6 linked regions of the Homo sapiens genome follow. The protein of the gene in region 2 purifies or fractionates together with the protein of the main gene of each other region. This does not show direct contact. Each region holds a gene or a part of one and is shown on either strand. Other genes may lie near its edges.

The links.
Region 1: the proteins of PCDH7 (region 2) and CEP350 purify together in Homo sapiens (affinity purification with mass spectrometry; one large-scale study listed by BioGRID and IntAct). This does not show direct contact.
Region 3: the proteins of PCDH7 (region 2) and TUT7 purify together in Homo sapiens (affinity purification with mass spectrometry; one large-scale study listed by BioGRID and IntAct). This does not show direct contact.
Region 4: the proteins of PCDH7 (region 2) and PSMD5 purify together in Homo sapiens (affinity purification with mass spectrometry; one large-scale study listed by BioGRID and IntAct). This does not show direct contact.
Region 5: the proteins of PCDH7 (region 2) and HTR2C purify together in Homo sapiens (co-immunoprecipitation; one large-scale study listed by IntAct). This does not show direct contact.
Region 6: the proteins of PCDH7 (region 2) and ABCG2 purify together in Homo sapiens (affinity purification with mass spectrometry; one large-scale study listed by BioGRID and IntAct). This does not show direct contact.

Annotation. Positions count from the first base shown.
Region 1 is NC_000001.11:180,017,310-180,020,809, reverse strand, and holds part of CEP350 (centrosome-associated protein 350), read right to left. Parts: intron 862-3,500; coding exon 1-861. UniProt on the Homo sapiens protein: Plays an essential role in centriole growth by stabilizing a procentriolar seed composed of at least, SASS6 and CPAP. Required for anchoring microtubules to the centrosomes and for the integrity of the microtubule network.
Region 2 is NC_000004.12:31,139,869-31,143,368, reverse strand, and holds part of PCDH7 (protocadherin-7 isoform d precursor), read right to left. Parts: intron 897-3,500; coding exon 520-896; 3' UTR 1-519.
Region 3 is NC_000009.12:86,291,911-86,295,410, reverse strand, and holds part of TUT7 (terminal uridylyltransferase 7), read left to right. Parts: exon of another isoform or gene 1-113; intron 114-3,500. UniProt on the Homo sapiens protein: Uridylyltransferase that mediates the terminal uridylation of mRNAs with short (less than 25 nucleotides) poly(A) tails, hence facilitating global mRNA decay. Essential for both oocyte maturation and fertility.
Region 4 is NC_000009.12:120,815,553-120,818,922, forward strand, and holds the end of PSMD5 (26S proteasome non-ATPase regulatory subunit 5), read right to left. Parts: intron 2,612-3,370; coding exon 2,354-2,611; 3' UTR 501-2,353; downstream 1-500. UniProt on the Homo sapiens protein: Acts as a chaperone during the assembly of the 26S proteasome, specifically of the base subcomplex of the PA700/19S regulatory complex (RC).
Region 5 is NC_000023.11:114,590,586-114,594,085, reverse strand, and holds part of HTR2C (5-hydroxytryptamine receptor 2C isoform a precursor), read right to left. Parts: intron 1-3,500. UniProt on the Homo sapiens protein: G-protein coupled receptor for 5-hydroxytryptamine (serotonin).
Region 6 is NC_000004.12:88,106,640-88,110,139, reverse strand, and holds part of ABCG2 (broad substrate specificity ATP-binding cassette transporter ABCG2), read left to right. Parts: intron 1-2,873; coding exon 2,874-2,956; intron 2,957-3,500.

The sequences.
Region 1 (3,500 bases), on a different chromosome or scaffold from region 2:
AAAATTTCTGCTACTTTCAAAAGGGGCTGTCCATCCTGGTCTCCCTCTTCTTCAGAGAGACTCCCCTCACTAAGAAGAGGCCCTTCACTGACTGAATCTATGCTGGAACCAAGAGATATTTTGGCTTTGTCTTGAGAACAGGCTTGCATATCAGAGCTAGAAGAGTCAGTCTGCCTTTTACATAACTGTGCCAGTAGCCCTTCTGGTTTGGGACCAGGGGATCTCACTCTAAAGCTTGATATGGCACTCTGTGGTCTTATCATCTCAGGAAGCTTTTTAAATTCACTAAGATTGCCTACACCAGGAAGATCATCATCAAAAGTTGCATGAGATACACAGCTTCCCAGCATCTTCTGAATTCTGGCAGAGAAAACATCTTCATTATCATCTTTCACAGGTGGAGTTACAGCCTTGGTCCAAGGTCCATCTTCTTGAGGTGCCTGCTGCACATCATACTCAGTGTTCCATGCTGACCCATAGTTAATGCTGGCCCCAGCTAATTTCTTGGCTTCACTTTCAATTCTGCTGGACAAAGAAGCAGCTGTTGCTTTCAAGGCTTCAATACGATCCAGTTTACTCTTATATTGGCTGGCACTAGGTTTTAACAAGGCATCTGTATAAGCAGCTGGTGAGGTCACATATGGTTGAGGTGTAAAAGTTAATGGCCTTGAAGCCATATTATGATTCTTCCTGGTTGGTAAAATAGATTCAAAATCCTTATGCAAAATTCCTACATGCTCTAAACTCAAGAGATGGGAGAGTAAACTTCCAGCTGTTCCAGCAAAAGGCTGTGGTTGAGAATGGTGAACTTGTGGGCTCAATCTTTCAGGCTGCATCCATGTAGATTCCATCAAGTCTTTTCTGGAAATGAAAGTCACAATATGTTAGTTAACTAAACCACCATTTTAAAAAAGTTTTTTTTTTATCTGATTATAAGAGTAATGAGGATGCACTGCAACAAAAAAAGGACAGATAAAAAATATAAAAAAGATAAAGATCACTCAGCAAAACAATAAAAAAGAGGCACTGTTAATATTTCATTTAGAATTATATCCTTCCAAACATTTTTCTATTTGTACATTATGTTTTGGTGGTATTGTTTGTACAAAAATGGGATTTTACCATATATACTGTTTTGCAAGCTGCTTTTTTCAACTAAGATGCCATATTTTTAAAAAACTATTAAAAAGGCAATAAGATCTTTAAAATTCTATAAACAGAATTCCTTACAATACTGATTATAATTTTTAAAATAACATTACATAAAAGAGAAATGCTTAAAATTGCTAAATATTAATGTAGACATGATATAGATTATTCTAATCAACAAATATTTACTATATGCTGAACACTTATGTTTAACAATGTACATGCTAAATAGGGAGGTTATTATAACCTATTAATACTTGTAAAAAATTAATGAACGTGAAACAATCAAATGCAAAACTATCAGTGCCAACTATAAATATGCAACTATAAATACAAATATACAGGGTAGGGTATCCATTAAGTCTAGAAACAGAATAAAGATGTCCTAAACAACATTATGTGTATTTACCTATATTTCCAGACCATAGACTTCCTCTATATTAAGGGATACTACAGAGAGATTACAGGATGATGTCAACTATTAAGAAGACCCTTAGAGGAACAGGCCAGGAACAGCGGCTGATGCCTGTAATCCCAGCACTTTGGGAGGCCAAAGCAGGCAGATGACTTGAGGCCAAGAGTTTGAGATCAGCCTGGGCAAAATGGCGAAACTCATCTCTACTACAAATACCAAAAAATTAGGTGGGCATGGTGGCATGTGCCTGTAGTCCCAGCTACTTGGGAGGTTAAGGCACAAGTATCGCTTGAACCCGAGAGGTGGAGGACGCATTGGGCCGAGATCGTGCCACTGCACTCCAGCTGGAAGACACAGTAAGACTGTCTCAGAAAAAAAAAAAAAAAAAGAAAGAAAGAGAAGACGAACATGAGGCTTTGTCCTTGGTCTTGTCCATTATTTTAGGATGATGACACAAAGATATGCTTATCAAACTTGCAGATGACAGAAAGCTGGGAGGCATGGCTGACCCAACAAATGACCAAATTATGAGATGAATTTATTTTTATAGGCTGCAATCGTAAACCAAACTAATATGGATAAATGTAAACTTCTGCAATTGGGTTAAAATAAGTCATCTGAAGGGGGGTAACCAGGGTAATAATAAGTTGAAAAGCATGTCATTAGAATGAAGGAAGAAAGACTAGAGCACAGATTCTATGCCTTAGAATATAGGCTATTACAAATGCAAAGTGTGAGGCTATTGGGGCCTAAACTAAGCTGGTAGTAATAGGAATACAAGGGAAGTTATAATATAAAAGATATTGATGAATAAAAATCCAAGAGCTTTAAATTCAAGTATTTAGAATGCCAATTTTATAGCAGGTGATATGTTGATGGTAGAGAAACAGGAGACAAAAATGAATATACTTAATCCAGTTAATCCTGAGCTGGGCATGGTAGCTCACACCTGTAATCCTAGCTACTTGGGAGGCTGAGGCAGAAGAATCAATCACTTGAGGCCAGAAGTTCAAGACCAGCCTGGGCAACATAGCAAGCTCCTCATCTCCAAAAAAATAAAAAACAAAATAAAATTAGCCAGGCGTGGTGGTGCATGCCTATAGTCACAGCTACTTAGGAGGCTGAGGTGGGAGGATCACTTGAGTCCAAGAGGTTGAGGCTGCAGTAAGCTATGATCGTGCCACTGCACTCTAGCCTGTGTGAAAAAGCAAGACCCTGTCTCCAAATTAAAAACAAATAAAAAGGCTTAATCCTTACACTTTAAGATCTCAAGATCTAGCAGGGATGACAAACAAACAGCTAAAATAAGACATCACAAATACTAAAACAAAGATTTAAAAAGTTCAGTAGGGTATAGATGAAGCAGCAATTAACTCTGCTAGCCAAGGAAAGTGTTTGTTAAGCTGGATCTTCAGTTTTCAAGGTGAGATATGAAACCTGGAGTTTTCCAGGTAGTTAACACAATATGCTATAAAGAGTAAGGAAAAGAAATGCCAAATTTTAAGCAAAAAGTAACATGCTTTTAAACATAAAGTTATGCTAAAACTATTAACGGGAATGGGGGAGCTCAGAAGCTGGGTAGCAAGAAAGTGGACGCAATAAGTTAGACATCAGGAGTCAAAGAAGTTGGATATTAAAAGAAAAGTGAGAAACTGGTACAAGGTAGTATGGTCTAACACTAGATTTGTTTGTGTTTGGCTTGCTTTTAATATTGGATAACTTGTTTAGAATTAGAAGGAAATTCAGAGAAAGATAAAAATTGAAGACATTAATATAGCAGGGTATGTCTGACAACAATAGGACTGAGATGAACTAGAGAGTATCACCCATCTAAAAGCATTCAATCCTCTCCAGAGACGACACTTAGAAAAATAAGTAAATAAATAGAAGCATTCAAATTCAAAACAAAAATGTTAAGTTTATTTATACTTAAAGT
Region 2 (3,500 bases):
TATCACTTTCAAAGGATTGCCTTTGATGGTGATAAACCATTTTCTGATGGTATGTCTGAAATACATTTTATCTGTCCTGCTTATTTTTGACCAGCCAGATGACACTCGAACAAAATCAAAGTGACTAAAATCATGCTTCAGCTTAGGGATAATGAGGGTGTGTTGTGTTCTGCTAATCAGGCTTCGTACAGTTACTGTGAAAGAAACTTGCAACTATCCCCCTTTTTTTTTCTTTTCTTTTTGTTTTTTTTTTTTTGGAGAGGGGTGGGGAAGAGAAAGTGAGTGTTGGGAATCAGTGAAGGGGTTAGACATGCAAGTAACAAGGATGGTTTCTACATTGTACAGTAGAATCAGGCTAACAGTATCACTAAAGGCCTGATCTGGAGGCAGAAGTGGCAGGCAAAGCTTTGTCTCTTTGGTAGCCCCCTCTTTGTGATTAAACGTTTTGCTTTGTAAGGTTTTTGCCCCTTATTCTCCTTTTCATACATGTAAAGAACTTTGCTGTTGCTCCTTTATAGCCTACAGGTAAACTTCTCTTCTAGTGAGAGTATTGACAGGAGATGGCTTATATTCCCCTGTTTTTGTAAGGGGAATATCCTCAGGGTTGGCTTCCTCATTTTTGCTGAAACTAGCTGCACTGAAGGTCTCATAGGATGAGGTCAACTTTTTGTTCAGGAGGTTTCTGTTGCGGTCACCCATGATGGCGGCCTCCCCATTGGCCAGCTTTTCCTGGCTTCCTCGTTCATCAACAGGCATGAAAGTGGACAGTTTAGGCTGGCTCTTCTTCCTCTCCGGAGAAGTGCGGACCGGCATCCAGCAGGAGTCTGAGTGGCCATACTCATCACACTCACGAGTGCACTTCCCAGTCAGGGCTACATCTGGAAGAGGCCTTGAATCTGAAATCCAAGGAGAATAAGCCATTAGTATTTGACACTCCTCAACAGGCTCCCCTGATCTATATGAAATTAGAGGAAATATATAAATATATTCCTTACCATCTTATTTCTCATTTCCCAACACCCTCTAGCTCATCATTCCATAGGACAGTTTTTAATCCCATGTGCATCAAAGATAAGGTTTTGCAAGGACATCCAATATTATAGAACAGGAAAGTAGACAAAATGATACATTTAAGTGTGTAGATGAAACAGATATATGTGTGTTTGTTACAGGACAGGGACATGAGGATGGTCTCAGTTAGAAGCTCTAAATACATAGGTAAATTTGTATGGGTGCTAATATTTTCCACATCCATAAGAAAAATTATTAAATCCAAATAGACAATTTTCTGGATTTATAAATTATCCCAGAAGTGGTGTGCTTTTGCCAATTGGATTTCTTCCTGCTTATACATTATTCATAGAATGCAAATATGCAAAACCTTATATTTAAAATACATTCTAAGACATGGGGTGACTCATAAGTAGAACCTAAATTGACAGCACATTATGTGGTAAAAACTAAAAAGCAAGGAACCAGTAGTTACAGGTATAAGCATACTAGCAATATCACGCACCTGCCCACCCTAGCCCACATCCCCTCACCCCCCTCCTACCATGCCAAATGACCTAATATGTGCTGATGTGTTCACATCAAAATACACAGGCCATCTTATCTGAAATGTAATGTACTGGGTGAATACGGGTAAGTTACTAAACTTTGGATGAACTAGCCTGTACTCTAATTAATGGTGCTGTCCAATGGAATGGGAAATGACTTTTACTTCTAAAAGGCTAAATCATGTACAAAGAATTCTTAGGAAACAAGATTAAAGATGACAGTTAATAATTACCTGTATGTATAATTGAAAGCATGTGTCTGTCTTTGGAGAATGGTTATGTATTTTCTAAATATTAAACATGTTTTTACAGACTTTGTTTGAGAAAGAGAGAATGGGAGAGAGAAAAGCCTGTTCTACTTCAACAGATTCTGAGGCAATAACCTGAAGGGTTTTATTTAAAATGTTTTATTGTTTTTTATTGCCAAACAAAAGAACATAATATGACTGCATTCCAGTTGTTATCACATGGTATCATTTTATTACAAGGCTTGGGACTTAAAGACTGACGAATTTGACCTCTGAAAATATATTTGCAACCAGTGGAATCAGTGAGATGTGCATATGCACAATCCTAGTAGATTCGTTTAAAATAGAAGAGGAAGTTATTTAAATTATTCCCAAGATATGTACACTTTCTGCTTTTGCTTCCACACCCCATCCCCTGTAGTTTAACATTTGTATAGGATATTTTAGACGTTTTACTTGGCTAAATCTCCTAAATGAAGGCTCGCCACTAATGTTTGTCATTTTTTCCTTCAATGATGGGTAACTGAAGTATTGACATTTGTCGGCCCATCGATTATTGAAACAGCGTCCTGGGATTTTTATGCCCTTGACTAAGCGTTAACAAGGAAATTCTAGTGTTCTACACCGGAAATCTAGAATTAGCTGACCCTTTCCTGTAGGTAAAATGTAAGGTTAATTATTTATTCCAGTTGCCGATGCTGCCATTTGACTTACAAGTGAGCAGATTCTCTTAATTTTTTCATCAAAAGAAAAAAGTACTTTCCCACTCATTTTTTTACCCTAAATTGTCTGTTTCTCAAATACGTATCTTAGATGCATTATAATAATCAAATTATTGACAAATTTTATTAGTGGTTTTTGTAATCTAGTTGGTTTAAATGAACAAACTGCAAGTTCTTTGAGAATATTTCCTATTTTGGGATCCTTTTTTCTTTTCTTTTTTTTTTTTTTTTAACCTGACCTAAATGCTTTGAACAGGGGGAAAAAAGGATAGAAATGCAAAGTGTAAGATCAGGTCTGCATTTTACTCAAAATATTTCCTTTTTTTTTTTTCACTGCTTCAACAAATTCAAATTGCTCCTCTTTTCTTATGATAGTGAATAGCAAGGACATGGGAAAATAATCAGGAATTTAGCTTCTAAAATATAAAAAAATCTTTATGAATGTGGTTGTTATTCCCTGCAGAAATGACCCTGAATTGTCTCCAATCATCTCTCCACATTTATGTCTCACACAATATGTCATTTCACTTACACAGTGACTTATACAGGTGGCTGCTTTTCAGGGATTAATTTGTGTTTTTAGTTTGAAATTCATTGCACTTGTTTTCCTGTTGTTTGAGATGCATTATAAACAGCTTGTAATTCTATATTCATGCTCAAACAAGTCTTCTTACTTTTTAACTTGTGTACCTAAACTACCTACAGCTCATAAGAGATTATAATCATTTATTAAATAGATTGACTGAATCTCCAATCAGCTATAAGTGAGATGCTCTTCAGTTCTTTCCTTCAGTCTTTACTTCACAGTCTGGAGTATTTTCTGCCAAAATTGATTTCCTCTATTGCTTTTAACGAAAGGCAGCTTGTCTTCTGTGCCATCATATACATGCAAGCTGCCACATCTCTATCCAAGAAGCATGACTTTTAATAAGGATCTCCTGTCATTTCCAAAGTAAAACACTTGATTGGGG
Region 3 (3,500 bases), on a different chromosome or scaffold from region 2:
TTTTAAAGTTGATATCTAAATCTTTCATTGTAGTTGCAAAGCATGTAATTTCTTGGGGGAGGGGGGCTGTAAATATTGACATTTTAAAATAAAACTTTTAAATCAGCCTTAAATGTATCAAATGAAGTATAAATATTATTGCTTTTTCATACCCACCATCATTTATATACAGCTCAGCTCTTCTTTAACAGGCAAAAATTATATATCATTTCCCTTTCCTCCTTGAATTCCTTTGTTGTACTTCTACAGAATTTCAGCATAAGATGATATATTTTGTTTGTTTGTTTGAACTTCTCCCTGAGATGATATATTTTTATTACACATATTTTCAAATATTTTATTGAGTAGCTTATCATGCTTATCTGCAACAAAAATGACAGGGGCAACAAGCTAGGCCCTATTTTCTATAAATTGAATTTTTAAGCTTTTTATTAAATCTCAAAGGATGAAAATATCTTCTATATTGAGTTTTCACAATTATTAGAATATATAATTGATCAAAACAAATGTTACAAATTTTAATTAAAAATTACTTTTTTTTTTTATACCTAATGCTAAATGACGAGTTAATGGGTGCAGCACACCAACATGGCACATGTATACATATGTAACAAACCTGCATGTTGTGCACATGTACCCTAAAACTTAAAATATAATAATAATAAACAAATATTAAAATAATAATAATAATTACTTTTTATGTTTACTTACAACGACTTTAATAAGAAAGATGAGATTTTTTCCCTATACATTCACATATCTTTGGGTCGACATTATTTACTGCGTGAATGAAACTGTTCCTTTTCTATCCCTAATTTTTTTTTATAGTTGATAAAAATGGAAAAACCCCAATATTCTTTATGATAGCAAATTAAAAATAATAGAAATACTTTGAGTTTGGGAATAGAAGATATATTACAATAGTGCCACTCAATTATTTTGATTCCTTCTTAATTACATGACAAAAAATCACAGTGATGTATCATCAAAAATTATTTGTAATGATCATCCACTATCAATGTAATTTTATGAAAGCTAAAAATTTGGATTTTTATTAGAGGCATTTACATTCACCACAGACACCAGCATTTTGTTTGCCTCTCCTCTTCTCTGGGTTTTTTTTTTTTTTTTTTTTTGCCTCATGGCAATACACCACAGTAGGATTTGGCTGGTTAGGAGATACGCCTTTCTTTTGTAAAGTAGATAAATAATTGTGAAAGGGGAATTAGAAAGGACAGGTGGAGTGATTCCTGAAAACCAGCCTAAGCCTTGACCACAAAGGCATTCACAGACATATAATTTTTAAGAAAGAGTACACATGGAAGTTGAAGAGCTAGAAATTGACTCTCTTAAAACTATCCTTGCGGCCGGGCGCCATGGCTCACGCCTATAATCCTAGTACTTTGAGACACCGAGGCGGGTGGATCACCTGAGGTTGGGAGTTCCGAGACCAGCCTGGCCAACATGGTGAAACCCCATCTCTACTAAAAAGACAGATTTAGTCAGGTGTACTGGTGTGCGCCTATAATCCCAGCTGCTCAGGAGGCTGAGGGCAGGAGAATCACTTGAACCTGGGAGGTGGAGGCTGCAGTGAGCCGAGATCAAGCCACATGCCCTGTCAGGTAGGCTCAGGAACACATGGGCCCAGGTTGGAAGAGCACCATTTATATAAAACACTCTAATGAATAGTCGCATATTTGTCTAGTTATTTCATCAGGATAAATTCCCGCTCATAAGAATGATAGGTTTAAAAGTATGCACATTTTGACAGTGATGCCAATATTCCCAAATTGTGATTGTTGACAATCCCGGAGAGTCAGTGACATTGTTTCCCATACCCTGACTTCATTGGGATAGTCTTTTTTCATTTTACACCTGCTTGAATTCCTATTATTACCATTGAACTTTACCATTTTTTTTTACATGATTTCATCTATCTTTCTTTGTACTTTTGTATTGGAGTATTCTTGACAGGGTCTCACTGTCGCCCAGGCTGGAGTGCAGTGGCTCAATTATAGCTCACTACAGCCTTGAACTCTCAAGCGATCCTCCCATCTCAGTCTCCCGAGTAGCTGGGACCATAAGCTAGTGAGACCACACTCAGCTGATTTTTAAAATTTTTTTGTAGAGACAGGGTCTCGCCATGTTGCCCAGGCTCGTCTTGAACTCTTGGGCTCAGATGATCCTCCTCAGTTTCCAGAAGTGTTGGGATTACAGGCATGAGCCACTCCACCCGGCCCAGTTTATTATTTTAACCTCACTTATATGTGTTTGCCATACAGATGAATGTTTGTTTTAATAGTGTGATCTAGCCAACTTTTGCATGGTTTCTTATCATGCTTACCAAATTTTATAAATGCCATATTATTCCTCTATATTATATAAAAATTCATTCATGTGTTATTTCTAGTACTTTTGTTTTTTTACATGCAAATATTTTATATTCAGGTATAGTGAAGATTTTTCTGATATAGTAGATTACATGTTTAAATGCTACAGTAGTAAAACTACTAGTACTATACTTACCAAAGGGTTTAACATTTTGGGAAAAACAGAAACGGGCAAGTAGCAGTATAACAATAACTAACTTACCTTCTAGAGAATTGGCATTGTTTTTCAATTTTTTTTTTCTTTTAGAGAGAAGGGTTTCACTCTGTCACCCAGGTAGGAGTGCAGTGGCACAATCATAGCTCACTGCAACCTCGAACTCCTGGGCTCAAGAAATCCTCCCACCTCAGCCTCCCAAGTAGCTCACAGGCATGAGCCACCTGTGCCTGGCTCAATCTCTTTTTTTTTTTTTTTTAATAAAAGACCTGTCACTGAGGTAGTGGAAGTGCCTTGAGTACCATCACCAACATCGTTTCCTCTGTCATGTCCCTCTCAACCCTAGAAACATCCATTATTATGAGGTTAAGTCTCCAAGTTTCCTTTTTTTTTTTTTTGAGACAAAGTCTCCCTCTGTCACCCAGGCTGGAGTGTAGTGGTGTGATCTCTGCTCACTGCAGCCTTCACCTCCTAGGTTCCAGTGATTCTTCTGCCTCAGCCTCCCAAGTAGCTGGGATTACAGGTGTGAGCCACTGCACCCAGCCCCTTCTGGTTCATTTTTTATACTCTTTCATATGTACTCCTTAACATATGTTTCTCCTTGGTGAATTTTTAAATTAAAATGGCATATCATGGCATATAATAAGAATGTCCTACAAACCAGGGATGGTGGCACGGGCATGCAGTCTCAGCCACTCAGGAGGCTGAGGCAGGAGGATGGCTTGAGCCCGGGAGATCTGACACTGTAGTATGCAATGATAGTGCCTGTGAATAGTCACTGCACTGCACTCCAGACTGGGCAACAAGCTAGACCTCATCTATTTTAAAACTTTTATATGGTGCTGTTTTTATATTTGGGTTTTTTTCTTTACAGTATTCCACCCTGTGAATAAAAAATATTCTATGTATTTATTACCCAGTTTTAGGTTGTATTCAATATTCTGCTGTTATTAACA
Region 4 (3,370 bases), on a different chromosome or scaffold from region 2:
CAAGTGCCTAACATAAAATCAATGCTAAGAAATGGTAGCTATTATTAGTAATAATGATAAAGAATTTTGCAAAAATTTCCCTTTAAATCCTAGGCGTTGGTCATATTGAATTACTTGTAGTTTCTCAAACATGTTCTCTTGTTTTCATGTGTACCTGCTGTCTTGCTTTGCTACTCCACTGTATTCTTCACTTGATTGCCTCCTACTAGTTCTTCAAGATGCAGGTGTTTCCTTCCCTGGAAAACATTTCCTAAAGTCAGGGGACGTGTTTTCTGTTTTCCTCTATTATTGTACTTCTTATACTCTCTAATTTTCTATTGACCTATTTTCTTCCAATATAAGACACTTTCTTCTTGTGTGATTTTCAGATAAGCTACTAAAGTCTTGGTTTCCTCATCTGTGAAACAGGGATGTAAAAATTAAATGAGATGCACTTGGCACTTAGGCCAATGTCTAGCACCTTCCCCAATCCCAAGAACATAATAGGCAGTCAACAGGTGTTTACTTATGAAATGAAAATAATGATTTACAAATTTTATTCAATCTAAAAAAAAAATCAGAATGTGTAGACCATACATAGGAGAGAGGGCATCCCCCCAAAATCTGATGTTAAGTGAATAAAATCAATGTCATGAAGCAGAATGGTGGTTGCCAGAGGCTGGGGAAAAGAGGGAATAGACAGTTATTGTTTAATGAATACAGTTTCAATTGTATAAGATGAAAATAATTCTGAAGATGGATGGTGGTGATGGTTGTACAACTTATGAACATATGTAATATACTGAACTGTACACTTAAAATAGTTATGACAAATTTTATTGTATATATTGCACCACATTGAAAAAAAATCAACATCATGAATGAGATTAAAACAAAGGTCATTTTAAGAGAATATTTCTCAGGCCAGGAAAGACCTGGTTATAGCCTAATTAGTAGTGATATTAACAGTAGGGGACTAGTCAGCATGGAAACACACACAAAAAACAGAGTCACGTTGCCAGGGGAGATGATCAATCTGGGGACTAGATAATTCCAGTCACTTTAAAATAATTTTGTTACAAAGCAGGGGTGGTTTATCAACTTCACCACGGCCTAAAAGAAATATGCTCATGCATAAACCTCTGAACAGGTGATTTGGTGTGCAGAGTGCTTTGGCTTTGCTGTTTAGAGAGAAGAACACTGGAAAACAGGTGGGTGTAGGTGTTGTCAATGAAAAGAAAGATTATCCTTTGTAAATTAATGAGATGGTATCCTGATTTATGCATATGTCCCTTCTGTTCTGAGTCTGTTTATTAGGAGTAAGTTTCCCTTTCTCTGATCAACTCAAGATTGACTTTATAGGTATGAAAAATCCAAAGCAAAACCCTCAGCAATCATGACCTACCAATAAATGAAATGACAGTTTAGGAATCCTTCTGATCCCCCAAAACCACAACAGGGCAAAGTTCATTGGTAAACAGCAAAAAAAATTACATGAACACTATAAACATTTTTTAGATATTTTGTCTTTTTTTCAAAGGAATAATAGTAACAAAAAAACAAGAGAGCTCATAAAAAGTATTCTGAGTATAAGGAACATAATCTTAATATTCCATACTACTCATTTTTCAAAGAATATATCCAAGACTTTGAAAGTGGAATCAGAAATGGAAAAAGGACCAAAAAGAAAAAAAAAGATAGTGAAGAGAATCCAGAAATAATTTGGTGGCAGGTTTTTATTTTATTCATTTATTTTTGAGACAGAGTCTTGCTGTGTTGCCCAGGCTGGTGTGCAGTGGCAAGATCTCAGCTCACTGCAACCTCTGCCTCCCAGGCTCAAGCGATTCTCGTGCCTCAGCCTCCTGAGTAGCTGAGATTATAGGTGTGCGCCACCATGCCTGGCTGATTTTATATTTTTAGTAGAGACAGGGTTTTGCCATATTGGCCAGGCTGGTCTTGAACTCCTAGACTCAAGTGATTTGCCCATCTTGGCCTCCCAAAGTGCTGGGAATTATAGGTGTTAGCCACCGCGCCCAGCCCTGAAGCAGGCTTTTAGATAAGATTGCATGTCCATGAAAATTTTGAGGGAAGAAAAAAACTTCCACCCTGTTGCAAAGATTAAGGCAGTGAAAGGAATCTGAAAAACACTGGATCTATTATGACCAAGCTTGTCTGCTCTTAATGCATTCCAAACTCCTAGTTCCACTTTGCATTTCAATGTAGAAATATAACAGTGTTGGTAACAAAGTAACATCTGACATTCCATGATAATTCTTGGGGAAAGGAAGTCTCTTTTGTGAAATATAGATGGAGTCAAATGCCTTAGGAGAAGTTTTGGTCAAAACGTGGTCCTCTACATGAGCTCTAGAAGAAATCATTCGGCTCCTTCTACTGCTGTCGTGGAAACAGGTTTCACATAGTATGGCCCTTCACTCAGGTAAGTTCTGAGCCTCAAATAATTTGGGTTCCCAAAGATTTCTGCAATTGTCTTGGAATTGGCAAGTGCTTTCACTAGTTCATATTTGGCATCCTTTGAAGCTTTGTCATGCTCCACAGACCGGTCCACCACATATTCTACAAAACCTGGACTGTTAAACATAAGTTTCTGAGCCCAGGGTTGGTTTGCAATGGCCTGAAATGGAAGGCAGAAAGAATACAATTCCCCTGAGTGGAAGTTGTTTGTTAATGGGATGGCACAATATTTACAAAGAAATCTGGCAACATGAACTTTAAAAATGTTACCTTTTGTCTAAGTAAATTCCTTCCTGAGAATCTAACTTAATAAAATAATCTTAAATATGAAAAATCTTTGTATACAAAAATGTTCATAATAGTGTGAAAGTTACAATATAAATATCTAATAATGGGAGAATGGTTAAGTAAATTATGGTATATAGCAATAAAAATAAACATTAACAATAATGTTTACAAAAAATAGGAAATGATACAGGTAAACCTGTTATATAAAAAAAGCAGATTCAAATTATAAACAATGCATGATTACAACAGTGGAAAAATAAAAACTAAAGTAGAAAAGACTAACCTCAAGATACTCATATAGTGCACAAACATTTTCAAGAATGTTCATTGTGGTATCATTTGTAAGATACTATCTAAATCTTCATTTATAGGAGAATGATATATTGTGGCTATTCAATGAAATACCAACTTTCTAACTGCCTCTTTTAACATAGACAAATTTTAAAAAAACGTAACATTGAAGAGAAAAAAAAAAAAAGCAAAAACTGCAATTACTTTTGCACCAACCTAATGGAATGATACAAACAGCATGATACCACTTACAAAGTTTATGAATATCTAAAATACTGTGTTTTATTTAAGGATACACACAATATGTAGTAGAAATATGAAATCATTTATGGGCCCTGAC
Region 5 (3,500 bases), on a different chromosome or scaffold from region 2:
TAATAGCCAAAGATATCTTAAATTTACTTTAAATAACAAAAGACAAAAAGAAGACATGTCTTCAATCACTCAGAAATCTTTAAGACATGAATCATTTCAAATGTAGGGCACTGGAGTGAATGGAAAATGACAAGTTAGAGACCTGAAGTGAATATTGACTTGAGATTTTATAAGAATTACTTAAGTAGCTGAAGAGTCATAACCATTAATCTTCTGGGGCATAAAATCAACTACCTGAGTATTATTATTTGAAGTGGATTTTCAGAATTAGAAACTGTTGATATTTTCTTAAAGTTGTAGCATTTGAAATTATCTCAGTAACCATCCAGTCTGATTTTCTCTTTTGGCGGAGGAGGACATAGAGGCTTATAACAGACTAGAACTTAGGTTCTAGTTAACTCCAAATTTGCACTATAAATACCTTTCCCACAGTGCTTGTGTCTTTTTGTATATTAATTATTCAGCAAATATATGTTGAGAGAAGCCACAATATGTAATGATATATGCAAACGGTAGCTGGGGAGTATAAACATGAATAAATTATAATCTTTGTTCCATGTGAATTTATAATCCAGTAGGAAAGATAAGACTCAAATTTAAAAGTGACGTGATGCATGTAAAACCTTTAACACCAGGCCTGCCTCTAAAGTATAAGTTAAAAACCAAGTAATAAAAATAAAATGCGATAGAAGCCAGGTGCAGTGGCATGCACCTGTGGTCCCAGCTAATCAGGAGGCTGAGGCAGTAGGTTCGCTTGAGCCCAGGAGTTCAAGGTCAGCTTTGGCAACATAGCAAGACTCCATATCTAAGGAAAAAACAATGTAATACAATGTGCTAAGTGCCATGTAAGAGGTGCAAACAATTATGTCTATTTTCTTAAAATTTAAAATGGAAATTCTGGTGTTCTTAAGTATGTGAGTGTAACCTAGATGACTTTTTAAAATATGGCCAGTAGTCTTTTTACACTGCACACACAAAATTATAACACATTTGCATTCTAAGCATTGCTTCTTGGCTTTATAGTCTGTATGATATCCTTCTTCCTCACCCCCTCCAATCAAACCGTACATCTTTCTCTGAATTAAGCATGAGGATTTGTCTGCAGTCATTTCCTAATGTTCCCTGTTAGCTGAAGCTCATCACTTCATAACCCACTTTAGAGTCCCTGGGTTTCATTCTGATATTCAGCAGCTACTTTGGTAGCTGACAACTTTTAGCCTTATCTATGCTCTGCCCAGGAATTGGGTAGCATTATTTGGTGCCATTGTAAAGAGAGTGGGAGATGTGCAGAGTTCAAACATGAGATAGGGAGTTGTCTGAAATGAGCTTTCAATTACTAACCCTAAGAGTCTATAATCACAATGGAATTTAAAAGGTGGCACATTTGAACAACATTTTTCAGAAATAATTCTGAAGCTGTATTAATGGACTGAAATGGGGAATAATTAAGAAAAGTTATCCACGAATGAATCCAAGGTAGGAAGGACAAGCATTATTTCAATTATCATAAGAAATTAAAGAAATCTGGGAGAAGGGATAGAGTGTTTTTTTAATAATTTCTCACTCTATAAGTGTTGTGATAAATGTATTCTGTATTATACTAGAGAAACAAATGAACTTTTATTTGATCTTGTTGCTTCATTCTCAATCAAGAGACTCAGAATATCCACTATGTTTGTACAAATTTGGCTGCCTTTCTGAAAATGGCACTTACCCAAAGTAAAGTATAAATCTATGGTAAAAATTCAAATTACTTTATAACAATGTATTATCTTCTCAGCATTCAAATGTTTTTCACTTTTAAATTCTGAATTAGGTTGGTGCAAAAGTAATTGCGGTGAAAACCACAATGGTGAAAACTACAATTACTTTTGAACCAACCTAATAAAATTTGTGGGAGTTTTCTCCATGTTCTCTTCCCCATTTTATATATTATACAATTTGTGACTCTATATTTGTAACCTTAGGGAAGTCAGTCATATAACCTCAGTGGTTTCTGTATTCTGTATCTGTTTATAACAAAGAGGTTAGTTTGAAGGATCCTTACAGAAAGATTACCTAGTATAAGGCTCTCATTTTGGAGTTGTGGAAACTGAGGCCTGAGTTAAGCAAATGACTGGACCATTTTTTTCTTCATTCATCCTGAGTGAGAGAGTAGGAAAGAGAGAAATCAATGTTGCCTATACCATAAATTGCAAAACTACATTATTACATTGAATTGCCTTTACTGTCTAACAGTACTTATTTGTTTCCTTAGGGAAGTATTGTAGAATATGTTTTTCACCTCATTAGCATCCAACAAAGTGTTAAATGTACATTAAGCCCTCAACTGAAATTCTCTTGCTGAATTTCAACTAAGCCATTGCTGAAATTCCATAATTCTTACAGGCTTTTCTTTATTCATCTTCATCTTACAGTTCACTAATTTGGCAGATAAATATGGACAGTGAATTTTATAGATTTACTTACGTGAAATTTAGGAAATTGGCTGAGGTTTGGTAGTAGAAGCAGGAAAATTTGACACAGACAGTTACCCAGTGAGAGGTGGGTAATAATCCTCCAAACTAAAGAATCTGCCCTTGCTAACTTAAATAATACTTTGGAGAGCAAGTCATTGTATCAATGAATAGTCATTTGGGCGCATAATTCTACCATACAAGTTCTTTTCCATTTACATAGTGATTTTAAAAATAGATATAGAGGTATGATGAAATGACTAAATAAATAAATCTATTGAGAAACCAGCTCATTTCTGCTTTTTCAAAATGAAGTTTCAAAAAATATTTGTTGGAGAGACACCAGATCTTCCTTGTTTTACTTCCTTCAAGAATGAAGTAATCAACTTCTTTCTGAATCTATTTTAGACTAACATTACATTTAAAACTAAAAGATACAGGCCTATTAGACCTCTGGGAGTCATTGACCAACCAAAAATGCTAGAACAATCTACCCACAAGCCACAAAGCATTAAATTAACTGTTTAATTAAGATAAAAAAAACTAATAGATTCATGACGTGATCACTCAGAGCAATTCATTAATACTAATGTCTGATTTCCTTTAACAGTATAAAAAGGAAGGAAATAAAGCTCTTATTTACAAGTTTATTTGCTGCAAAGGCATTTAGGAATTGCTATTTTAAAAAGAAAACTTGCGCTTCTTTCTGAGCCATCAACCCATACCGCAAAATGGGTGCAGAACTCAGTTTGCTAATAAAAAGAGAATTCTATAGCCATGCATGTGGTCAATGAAATGGTCTCTCTCTCATATATGTATATATAATGGTGTATTTCACTGTGAAATGGAAAATAAAACAGTGTGGTAGGGCTAAGCTTTAGCTAAACTAATTTAAGAAGATTTATAATATTTTTATTGCCCTAAAATATGTTCAGAGAAATTACCTGAAATCATTTCAGGGGAAACTGTTATTCTGTTAGATGCCTTGAATTCTTGAATATTATTGTGCAGATGTGCTAAAAATTCTATTTTAGCTCTTCCTTC
Region 6 (3,500 bases), about 57 Mb from region 2:
TTTTTATTCAATGATAAATAAAATGAGCTAAGTGTGGTGGTGCATGTCTGTAGTCCTAACTACTCAAAAGGCTGAGGTGGGAGGATTGCTTGAGACCAGAAGTTTGAGGCTGCAGTGAACTATGATTACACCACTGCACTCCAGCCTGAGTGACAGAGTGAGACTTTGTCTCTAAAAAATAATAAAAAATAAAGTAAAAAACCATTCTTAGCTCATAGGTGAACAAAGATAGGTGGCTGGCCCTATTTGACCTGTGGGCTATAGCTTAATGATTCCTGATTCAGGGTTTATGATTTTGTATGTTGTTTTAATTCTGAGTTCTTGAAAATTGAGTTGTTAAAATGTTTTATGACTCTCTACTGATAAATCTTGAATCTGTTGCTTTACAGCTGCACTTTGGCTTGAACTAGTTATTTCTTTACATGATTCAAACTTGGCCTCTGATAATGCATCTTCCAAAGGTTGTATTTGGAAAATCTTAGAATGAATGGATTATCTGTATGAGAAGATTGCATGTTCATTTAAGGTGCCAAGGGTTTTCTGAACAGCTCAACTTGGAAGCAGATGGGGTCTGTGCACTCCATTGTGCACTGTTTAGTTTGCCTGTTTGTTTTCCTTTCTTTAATGCCAGAAAGAATAACACAGACACACCTTATAAAAGCATGCCAAGGTTACGGGATTGATTATTTTGTCAATATGTTTGAAAGCTGACTTTGAAAACATTTTTAGAACTTTGAAACTTTTAGGAAACATCTTAATCATAATACTCAGTGTTAGTATAAGATAACAAGTTTGAATGAAAACTTGACAAAGCATTTGGAATGTTTAGTTTGAAAAGTCTGGGCCGGGCATGGTGGCTCATGCATGTAATCCCAGTGCTTTGGGAGGCCAAGGCGGGCAGATCATGAGGTCAGGAGTTCGAGACCAGCCTGGCCAACATAGTGAAACCCTGTGTCTACTAAAAGTACAAAAAATTAGCTGGGCTTGGTGGTGGGCGCATGTAATCCCAGTTGCTTGGGAGGCTGAGGCAGGAGAGTTGCTTGAACCTGGGAGCTGGAGGTTACAGTGAGCCGAGATCGCGCCATTGCACTCCAGCCAGGGCAACAGTGCGAGACTGTCTCAAAAAAAAAAAAAAAAATCCTGAATTGAATATTCTTAAAAGTTTTACTGTGTGAAAACGTAGACTCTTGTATGCACATTCATGCATGCCTGTTGATACAGTCATCTGCATTTATTTTGGAAGCTTGGTCTGTTGAAGTATATTCTGAGGGTAATGAAAATATGCCAGCATAATGGATTTCCCCCCAAAATTTCTAAGTGAATTTTAAAAGACAGCTCATAAGTAGAAACATTGGAATAATGTTCTTTCCAGACTAGGTTCTTCACAAACTAGTTATCACAGATGATGGTACTGTTTTTGCAGTTCGGTTTGCTTCATGCCAAAAGTGTCCTTGATCAGTTACTTTAAATCTTGATACCATTAGACTGTTGCAGTATTGAGATTTTGTTTTTTTAACTTTGAAGATTCCAAGATATGGTAGGATATTTTGTCTTCTTTAGATTACCATTTCTTATTTTTTTATTCTTATTTATTTATCAATTTATTTTTTGAGACAGTATCGCTCTGTCGCCCAGGCTGGAGTGCAGTGGTATGATCTTGGCTCGCTGCAACCTCCACCTCTAGGGTTCAAGTGATTCTTGTGCCTCAGCCTCCCGAGTAGCTGGGACTACAGGCGTACACCACCATGCCTGGCTAATTTTTTTGTGTGTGTTTTTTTTTAGTAGAGACGGAGTCTCACCATGTTGCCCAGGCTGGTCTCAAACTCCTGAGTTCAGGCAATCTGCCCCCTCGGCCTCCCAAATTGCTGATATTACAGGCATGAGCCACCACGCCCAGCCCATTTCTTGTTTTTTAATATTTAACTCACGAGTAAATATAAATAGGATTTTCTCAGATAAATTATATCATAACGTAACCCTTAAATTAACCCTTTGCTTATTGAAGTGTCCTTAAGAGACCCTTTATCCTAGAAACAAGATTGGTGTTTGTCCAGTCTCCTTAGGAGCTATAGAAATCAATTGAGTGGTGAAGATAGGTGAGAACAGCAAAGAATTGGCAGCTTAGGTCTGCAGCATTGGCTATAGGCCTCACTGGCTGAAGCGATGAGGAAGCAGTGACAGGAGATGGGTAGTGGAAGCATGCAGTGTGTGCACAGAGAAAGCCGGCCAAATGCTTTGGTGACAGTGACAATGCACTTTTCCAGTGCAGGCATGGACTCCCTAGAGGTTGGATAGGCAGGCTCCATCTCACCCCTATTTCCTCACTGTGCAAAATTCCATTGTTAGAATTTTTTTAATGTGTGCTTTAAAATTTTTATTTATTTTTAATGTTAAGAATAAAGATATCCTGTTTTCACTTTAACCTCTTGAAATATAAAATGACTCATGTTCATTGGCACAAAGGTTGAGAGTTCAGTTCAGGGTCAAAACTCTTAGGCACTTGGACTTTGCTTTGCTACATACTTGCATTGCTCTGCTATCCTGTGTGGTATTCACAAGCTCAGTAACCTGAAGCAGACCCTGAACTGACTGCTGGGTGGTGCAATGGGAGGAAGTCCAGCTTTTCCAGCAGTGTGCTTTGTGTCCTACCACTCTCCCCAAAGCACAGATAACTTAATTTTTAACTTAGGAAGCAGTCTAAATAATGTATGCTGTTTTATTTTCTCCCAGGGACGTTGGCCAAGCCATTGAGTGTTTATCTTAATGGAGAGATCTGATTATGTAACCATATATTATACTAATAAATGGTGTGTATAAGTTTTTATCTCTAATTGAAACTCTTCCCCTTTTTTTGCATTTTTCTTTTTGAAAAGATCATTGTCACAGTCGTACTGGGACTGGTTATAGGTGCCATTTACTTTGGGCTAAAAAATGATTCTACTGGAATCCAGAACAGGTAAGTAAATTTGGATCTTGATTTTCAGAAAATGCTGTTACTTTCTTCAAGCTTATTGAAATCCATTAAGAATTTGAATTTAAGACAAGTATAGTGTAAATGTCATTCTTTTATTGAGGGTAGGATGAGTCAGTTTATTTTTGAGACAGAGTCATGCTCTGTTGCCCAGGCTGGAGTGCAGTGACGCGATCTCAGCTCACTGCAATCTCCGCCTCCCGGGTTCAAGCAATTCTCCTGCCTCAGCTTCCCAAGTAGCCTCGACTACAGACATCCACCACCACGCCCAGCTAATTTTTGTATTTTTAGTAGAGACGGGGTCGCACCATGTTGGCTAGACTGGCTTCGAACTCCTGACCTCAGGTGGGTCCACCCACCTTGGCCTCCCAAAGTGCTGGGATTACAGGCGTGAGCCACTCCACCTGGCCCAATTATTTTTAAATGTACAGTTCAGTGGCATTAAGTACATTTACATTGTTATGCAACTATCACCACCATCCAACTCTAGAATTCTTTTTGTCTTCTCAAGTGGAATATCTGTACCCAT